Regions from separate parts of the Homo sapiens genome. Here regions 2 and 3 are each linked to region 1. Evidence: fine-mapped expression QTL. A gene starts in region 1. Each other region holds a variant in brackets. All regions are shown on one strand. Distances are from middle to middle. Region 1 holds the start of SPSB2 (splA/ryanodine receptor domain and SOCS box containing 2). Region 2 has its middle 5.8 kb from the start of CD4. Region 3 overlaps SLC2A14 (solute carrier family 2 member 14).

Evidence for each region. PIP is the estimated chance that this variant, and not a neighbour inherited with it, causes the effect.
Region 2: its variant is fine-mapped to the expression of SPSB2 in thyroid (GTEx, PIP above 0.99).
Region 3: its variant is fine-mapped to the expression of SPSB2 in testis (GTEx, PIP 0.98).

The regions. Positions count from the first base shown.
Region 1 is chr12:6,872,166-6,874,922 of GRCh38, reverse strand. SPSB2 (splA/ryanodine receptor domain and SOCS box containing 2) reads left to right here and starts at 1,620. Exons shown (of 3, transcript NM_032641.4): 1 at 1,620-1,677; 2 at 1,926-2,685. The coding sequence starts at 2,022. RefSeq lists a silencer at 1,211-1,660 and an enhancer at 2,051-2,290.
Region 2 is chr12:6,782,356-6,785,112 of GRCh38, reverse strand. It overlaps the pseudogene RN7SL380P. Among named protein-coding and RNA genes, the nearest start is that of CD4, 5.8 kb to the left of the region's middle. The variant C/T (reference allele first, on the strand shown) is at 1,231.
Region 3 is chr12:7,810,155-7,812,911 of GRCh38, reverse strand. SLC2A14 (solute carrier family 2 member 14) reads left to right here. Exons shown (of 11, transcript NM_001286234.2): 11 at 1-398. Among named protein-coding and RNA genes, the nearest start is that of NANOG, 22 kb to the right of the region's middle. The variant G/A (reference allele first, on the strand shown) is at 1,367.

The DNA.
Region 1 (2,757 bases):
TCATACACACACTGGCCTTCAGGTATTCATGCCCGGGGAGTCTGGTCCCACAGCTGGCATGTTTGCCATTATATTATATTGCCTCCTTATAGTGTCGGCACTCATTAAGCACATTGACAGCTATGCTTGGTGAGTGACTACTATGTACCCAGCTCTGTGCTACATGCTTTACCTGGATTATTTCAACTGCACAACAACCCTGTGAGGTAACTACCATCATTGCTCCTATTTTACATAACAGAAAACTACAGAAATCTGGGGCTGGGCGTAGTGGCTCATGCCTGAAATCCCAGCACTTTGGGAGACCCTGTCTCTAAAAAAAATTTTTTTTTGGCCGGACGTGGTGGCTCACACCTGTAATCTCAGCACTTTGGGAGGCTAAGGCAGGCAGATCACAAGGTCAGGAGTTCTAGACCAGCCTGGCCAACATGGCAAAACCCTGTGTCTACTAAAAATACAAAAAATAGCTAGGCGTGGTGGCAGGTGCCTGTAATCCCAGCTACTCAGGAGGCTGAGGCAGGAGAATCCCCTGAACCTGGGAGATGGAGGTTACAGAGAGCCGAGATCGTGCCGCTGCACTCCAGCCTGGGCAACAAGAGCAAGACTCTGTCTCGAAAAAAATAAAAATAAAAATAAAAATATTTTTTTAAAAATTAGCTGGGTGTGGTAGCACATGCCTGTAGTCCCAGCTACTTGGGAGGCTGAGGTAGGAGGATCACTTGAGCCCAGGAGGTCAAGGCTGCAGTGGGCTGTGATGGCGCCACTGCACTCTAGCCTTGGTGACAGCAAGACCCTGTCTCAAAAAAAAAAAAAAGAGAAATCGGGCAACTTCCCCAAGATCGCGCAGTTAACTAGTGGCATAGCTTCACTCAAACTCGAAGTCTTAATCAGGACACTCTACCAAATGAGATCAACGGCTCAGTAATGGATTGGCATCCAGTATGAAGACTGGACCAGCAGGGAGAACTATGATGCGTACAGCCTAGAGCCTGAAGCAGATTTCACAGCCTCAGAGGTGGCACAGGCTGACTCACAACCCGGGGCAGAAAGGGACCAGCCCAGAAACAGTGACCCAGAATCACAGGGAAGTAGAAATGGGATTCGGCACAATGAAGCCCCTCCTTGACCCCATGCTCCTTACCCTCAGGGGCGCAGGAGTTAGTCGCTCAGGCGGCTCAAAGGTCTTGACGGTGGAGAACACCATCCCCAGGGATTCCCGACGCGGTGATGCCATCAAAGCGTTAATTCTGAGATGGGCCTGCCCGGGTGCGGACTCTGCCGCAGCAAGAGAAGGGTTAACTGCCCCGGGCCTTCGCCGTGGGGGCGGGGCCTCGGGGAGGGTCACAGCCCGGGACTGAGACCCGAGGTTAACCGCCCGGGGTGGGCTCCACGGGGGCGGGGCATGCTCTCCGCGGCTGCTGCCGGTATAGAGCGGTAACTGCCCAGGAGGGGGCGGGGCCCCACAGGGGCGTGGCCTCGGAGCTGCACGGCCGTGGGCGGCGATGAGAGGGTTAAGCCCCAGAGGGCCCTGGAGGGGCGGGGCCGCGGGACGGGCTCGGCCCAAGGGAGGAGCTGGGGGCGGAAGCGGCCGGCGGTCTGCGCCCTGCGCGCCTCGGCTTCTTTCCGCCCGGCTCCTTCAGAGGCCCGGCGACCTCCAGGGCTGGGAAGTCAACCGAGGTTCGGGGGCAGCGGCGAGGGCTCCGGGCGAGTAAGGGGGATGGTCCATGCTGAGGCCCAAATGGGGCGAACTCGCGAGAGTCTCTGGCGACCTGGATCAGATGGGGCGAGGGCAGATGAAGGGCCCAGGAGCTTTGGGGCAGCGAGGAGGGAGGAGCGGGCCCGTTGGCAAACTTGGGTGAAAGGATGGGGTACCTGGGTGACGAGCCCCCGCCAGGATTCTGCTCTTCACGCCCCTTTTCTCCCAGCTCCCTTCCAGGTCAATCCAAACTGGAGCTCAACTTTCAGAAGAGAAAGACGCCCCAGCAAGCCTCTTTCGGGGAGTCCTCTAGCTCCTCACCTCCATGGGCCAGACAGCTCTGGCAGGGGGCAGCAGCAGCACCCCCACGCCACAGGCCCTGTACCCTGACCTCTCCTGTCCCGAGGGCTTGGAAGAGCTGCTGTCTGCACCCCCTCCTGACCTGGGGGCCCAGCGGCGCCACGGTTGGAACCCCAAAGACTGTTCAGAGAACATCGAGGTCAAGGAAGGAGGGTTGTACTTTGAGCGGCGGCCCGTGGCCCAGAGCACTGATGGGGCCCGGGGTAAGAGGGGCTATTCAAGGGGCCTGCACGCCTGGGAGATCAGCTGGCCCCTAGAGCAGAGGGGCACGCATGCCGTGGTGGGCGTGGCCACGGCCCTCGCCCCGCTGCAGACTGACCACTACGCGGCGCTGCTGGGCAGCAACAGCGAGTCGTGGGGCTGGGACATCGGGCGGGGGAAGCTGTACCATCAGAGCAAGGGGCCCGGAGCCCCCCAGTATCCAGCGGGAACTCAGGGTGAGCAGCTGGAGGTGCCAGAGAGACTGCTGGTGGTTCTGGACATGGAGGAGGGAACTCTGGGCTACGCTATTGGGGGCACCTACCTGGGGCCAGCATTCCGCGGACTGAAGGGCAGGACCCTCTATCCGGCAGTAAGCGCTGTCTGGGGCCAGTGCCAGGTCCGCATCCGCTACCTGGGCGAAAGGAGAGGTGAGGCCTGGGGCAGACGTGGGGAGAACTTTCTGTCCCTGGTGGCAGTGGTTTGGGATGGAAACTCTTCTG
Region 2 (2,757 bases), 90 kb after region 1:
TTTTTTCAACTTGTCGTGACACTGGGTAGAGCAAACAGAGCATTCCAAGGGCTGGCTCTAGCTTTGGGCCCACCGGTTTGCAGATTCCAGACCCGATGGACGGTGTGAGAACTTGCAGCTCTGTGAGTCTGTGGCCTGGAAGTCAACGGTCCTGAGAACCTGGCTCTCTCTCTGGGGTTTCCAAACAGGAAAAGAAAAAAGGAAGAGAGAGGGTGAGTTTATAGTAAACATTTGGCATTGTTGTGTGCTTTATGTGGTTGTATCTTTTATTTAATCCTCATGAGAGTGATAAGACATAGGTATTATTGTCCAGGCCATACAGATGAGGAAACTGAGGCTTGAAGAGTTTTTTGTTTTCTTAGACAAGGTCTCGTTCTGTCACCCAGGCTGCAGTGCAGTGGCACGGTCACAGCTCACTGCAGCCTCAACCTCCAGGGCTCAATCTATCCTCCCGCCTTAGCCTCTCAAGTAGCTGGAACTACAGGCATGTGCCACTGTACCCAGCTAAATTTTTTTTTCCCCTAGAGATGGGGTTTTGCTATGCTTCCCAGGCTGATCTCAAACTCCTAGGTTCAAGCAATCCACCCACCTCAGCCTCCCAAAGTGCTGGGATTACAGGCATGAGTCACACTGTGCCTAGCCGAAGAGTTTCAGTTGTCAAAGGTCTCAGAGCTAGTAACCACAGCTGGTGGAACCGGGATTTGAATTCACCCGCTTGGACCCCAGTTTCTGGGTGGTCCCCCTCATTGCACTGCCTCTCCTCTGCATTAAGAAGGTCCAGGACCAGGCATGGTGGCTCGTGCCTGTAATCCCAGCACTTTGGGAGGCCGAGGCGGGCGGATTGTGATGTCAGGAGATCCAGACCATCCCGGCTAACACGGTGAAACCCCATCTCTACTAAAAATACAAAAACAAAAACAAAAACAAACAAACCAAAAAAAGAAGGTCCAGGCGGGGCGTGGTGCCGAGTGCCTGTAGTCTCAGCTACTCAGGAGGCTGAAGCAAGAGGATGCCTTGAGCCCAGGAGTTCTGGGCTGTAGTGCACTATGCAGATCAGGTGTCTGCACTGAGTTCAGCTTCAGCGTGGTGACCTCCCGGGAGTGGGGAACCACCAGATTGCCTGAGGAGGGGTGAGCCAGCCCAGGCCGGACACACAATGGGTCACAATTTCCATGCTACCCATGCTAATCAGCAGTGGGATCGGGCCTGTAAATAGCCACTGCGCACCAG[C/T]CTGGGCAACATAACGAGAACCCACCTCTAAAAAAAAAATAAAAAATAAAAAAAGAAGAAGAAAGGCCAGGATGACAGCTAAGAGAAGTCTTCTCCCTTAGCAGTGGAGGGAGGTATGAGGCCCACTGCCTCACCTGGAGCTTCTGAGGCTCAGCAGTGCCATGGTCCTCACATCTCTAGAGTGGTTTTCCATTTTCCAAGCACTTTCACATTCATTTGTACATGCCAGACCTTTTTGGTAGGTGTTGCTGTTACTATCCTTACTTTACAGAAGAAGAAATGGAAGTCAAGCTGTCTGCCCCCATCACATGTCTGAAAGCATGGAACAGGGGGAGTTCCAGAGGCTATTTTTGCTGCATGTATCCTGCCTCTCTAGGCTGTAGAACGGGAGGAGGCCAAGCCAGGGGAAGGAGTGATGGGGAAGAGAGAGAAGCCGGTGTCAGAGGCTACAGACAGAGTGCTGGAGACTGGATGATCTGAGAGGCCTAGGGCAGCCAGGGTTGCAGGAAAGTTGAAAGCCCCAGGTGCAACTCTGCGGTGGCCTCCTTACCAGAAGTATCTTTGGCAGCACTGACGCCCTCTGCAAAGGGGGCTGGGGGCAGGGTTTGAGGATGGGGAGCAGGGGAGGGGTCTTTGGGGCTGTTCTCTGGGAAGCAAAGTCTAGGAGCATCGATGCCATCTCTACCCCATCCACATTTCCCCTGGCTCCAGGACCACTTTTTGCCACTCTCAGAGGGTGGTTCTGGGCCTCCCCTACCCCACGGGAAGTTTGAGTAGGCACGTTTCAGAGCTCAGCCCGGGCTCAGACAGCTGACACCTGCAGCCCCTTGGAGAAACTGTCAGCCACAGAGTGGAGCAGATAGAACCGACCCCACCCCAAAGCAATTCCCTTCAAAGGAAGAACCCCACCCTGGGGTGGGCCTGTGCGGGGGACCCTAAGCTCCTTGATCTCCTCCTTTGAAGGAGGGATAGCAGCAGGGGCTCAGGCCTGAACCCTAACATCTCTACCTGGTAGGGGAGGTGGGCAGGGAAATTTCTGGGCCTGCAGAGGCTCCTCCTCTGCACTATGGAGCTGAGAAGACCACGTCAGGGGTAGGGGAACCGCTGGCAAACCCGACTCCAAGGCTGAATGTGCACAGTATGGCCTCCTACCTCACACACTCGACTTGCCAAGGCCCTGGACCTCACTTGGCTTCCAGAACTTCTGGAGAGTGGACAAGAGAAGAGGGCTGGGGATGGAGATGCTCAGAGACGTCCCTTCCCGTCTCTTGGCCTATCTCTGTTTCAGGCACTGCTCCCCACTCTGACAGCCAGGCTGCAAGATGGCCCCCAGTGACTCCTGTCTCCCTCAGTTCACACCCTTGCATTGCCCCCTCCTGCTTGCACCAGGTTGGTCTCTGTGATCAATAGAATAGGGCAGAAATTATGGCACGTTGCTTTCAAGATCAAATCTAATCTTGAAATAAAGATGTGGTAGCTTTTGTCTTTTCCACGCTGTCCCTCTGGGGGAAGCCAGTTGCTGTGTCG
Region 3 (2,757 bases), 940 kb before region 1:
CTGGGTGGAAGTATGTTATTGTTGACTTATTTTCTCTGTGTTTGTTCCTACAGCCCCTTTTTCATATGTTGCTCAGTCTCCCTTTCCCTTCTTGGTGCTTACACATCTCAGACCCTTTAGCCAAACCCTTGCCAGTGACAGTATTTTGGTTCTCAGTTCTCACTGTTCCCTCTGCTCCTGGAGCCTTTGAATAAAAATGCACGTAGCTATGGAGTGGGGTTTAGCTGGAAAGGTGGCCTTCCAACTTCACGTCAACTTCTGGCTCCTCAGTTTGGCAGTAAGGCAGGGAAGTTGTTTTCCTATTTCTCACTGAGAAGATTGTGAATATTTCCATATGGATTTTCCATTATTGTTTGTTTGATTCTTTGTTTTAAAATAAAAATTCTGAATGTACATGACATCACAAGCACATTATTTATTTATTTTTTGCCGTTCCTGTAACAACAAAATCAGCTTTAAATCCTGAGTTGGCTACTCAGTACCTGTTGTGACCTTGAGACTTGTATGAGACTCTGTTCTTAGAGTCTCATACATAAGAGAATAGCAATATTTGGCCGGGCCCGGTGGCTCATGTCTGTAATCCCAGCACTTTGGGAGGCAAAGGAGGGCGGATCACCTGAGATCGGGAGTTTGGGACCACCTGGCCAATATGGTGAAACCCTGTCTGTACTAAAAATACAAAAATTAGCCTGGCGTGGTGGCAGGTGCCTATAATCCCAGCTACTTGGGAGGCTGAGGCAGGAGAATCGCTTGAACCCAGGAGGCAGAGGTTGCAGTGAGCCAAGATTGCGCCATTGCACTCCAGCCTGGGGGACGAGAGTGAGACTTTGTCTCAAAAAAAAAAAGAGAATAGCAATATGTGTTTATTATGCAGATTAAGTGAAAAAGCCTTCGTGCCTTGCTTTTCATACTTGATGAATTATGTTGCTTTCTTTCCCCAGTGAGAACTAGTTTTTTTTTTTTTCTGTTTTTCTCGTGTTCCTTTCCACTTCCTTCCTCCTCCAGTCTTTGCTCTCTACAATTCATCCCACACTGCTGTCAGGGCATCCATGTGACATACAGCAGTCCCTTGCCATCCCCAGGGGACTGGTTCCCAGACCCCTTCTTAGATAACAAAATTCAGGGATACTCAAGTCCCTTATATAAAATGCATATAGTCTGGGTGCAGTGGCTTATGCCTGTAATCCCAGAACTTTGCGAGGCCAAGACGGGCAGATCACGAGGTCAAGAGATCCAGACCATCTTGGCCAACATGGTGAAACCCCATCTCTACTAAAAATACAAAACTTAGCTGGGTGTGGTGGCATGCACCTGTAGTCCCAGTTACTCAGGAGGCTGAGGCAGGAGAATCCTTTGAACCTGGGAG[G/A]CGGAGTTTGCAGTGAGCTGAGATCACGCCACTGCACTCCAGCCTGGTGACAGAGCAAGACTTGGTCTCAAAAAAAAATGCATATAATTATTATTGTGATGATTTAAATGCAAATAATCTATGCACATCATCTCATGCACTTTAAATCATCTCTAGATTACTTTTAATACCTAATACAATGTAAATAATTGTTAAACTGTATTGTTTTTTATAGTTGTATTGTCTTTTTTCCCAAATATTTTCCATCTGTAGTTCTTTGCATCTGCAGATACAGAAGTCGGACTGTATATCACTATCCTACTTAAAATCCTTCGGCCGGGCGCAGTGGCTCACACCTGTAATCCCAGCAATTTGGGAGGCTGAGGCGGGCGGATCACAAGGTCAGGAGATCGAGACCATCCTGGCTAACACGGTGAAACCCCGTCTCTACTAAAAATACAAAAAAAAAATTAGTGGGGCATGCGGCGGGCGCCTGTAGTCCCAGCTACTCAGGAGGCTGAGGCAGGAGAATGGAGTGAACCCGGGAGGCGGAGCTTGCAGTGAGCCGAGATCGTGCCACTGCACTCCAGCCTGGGCGACAGAGGGAGAGTCCATCTCAAAAAACAAAAGAAAACAAGCCGGGCATGGTGGCACATGCCTGTAGTCCCAGCTACTTGGGAGGTTGAGGTGGGAGAATCACCTGAGTCCAGGCGATTGAGTCTGCAATGAGCCAAGATCGCACCACTGCACTCCAGCCTGAGTGACAGAGTCCCTATCTCAAAAAACAAAAAAAGTATATTATACTAAAATTTGTCTTCCCAAGGATTATAATTGTTTTTTATCGGAGGAGGGGAACAGGATATCACTGTATTGCCCGGGCTATTCTCCTGGGCTCAAGCAACTGTCCGGCTTCAGCCTCCTGACTAGCTTGGACTTCAGATTCGAGCGACCAAGCCTTTCACATTACAATTGTTTTTTTAATTAATTAACTATTTATTTATTTGAGATGGAGTCTTTCTCAGTTGCCCAGGCTGCAGTGCAATGGTGTGATCTCGGCTCACTGCAACCTTAGTCTTCAGGGATCAAGTAATTCTCCCGCCTCAGCCTCCCCAGTAGCTGGGAGTACAGGCACACACTGTCATGCCTGGCTATTTTTGTAGTATTGTAGAGACGGGGTTTCACCATGTTGGCCAGGCTGGTCTTGAACACCTGAGCTCAACTGATCCGCCCACCTCGGCCTCCCAAAGTGCTGGGATTACAGGCGTGAGCCACCGCGCCCGGCCAATTGTTTTTTTATTATTGAAAGGTAGGAACACTGAGAAAAGCAGGGAAAGAGTAGGACCTTCCTGGTAGGAGCAGAAACCCATAAACTTAGACAGGGTAAAGCCTGATAAATCCTACAGTCAGGCCAG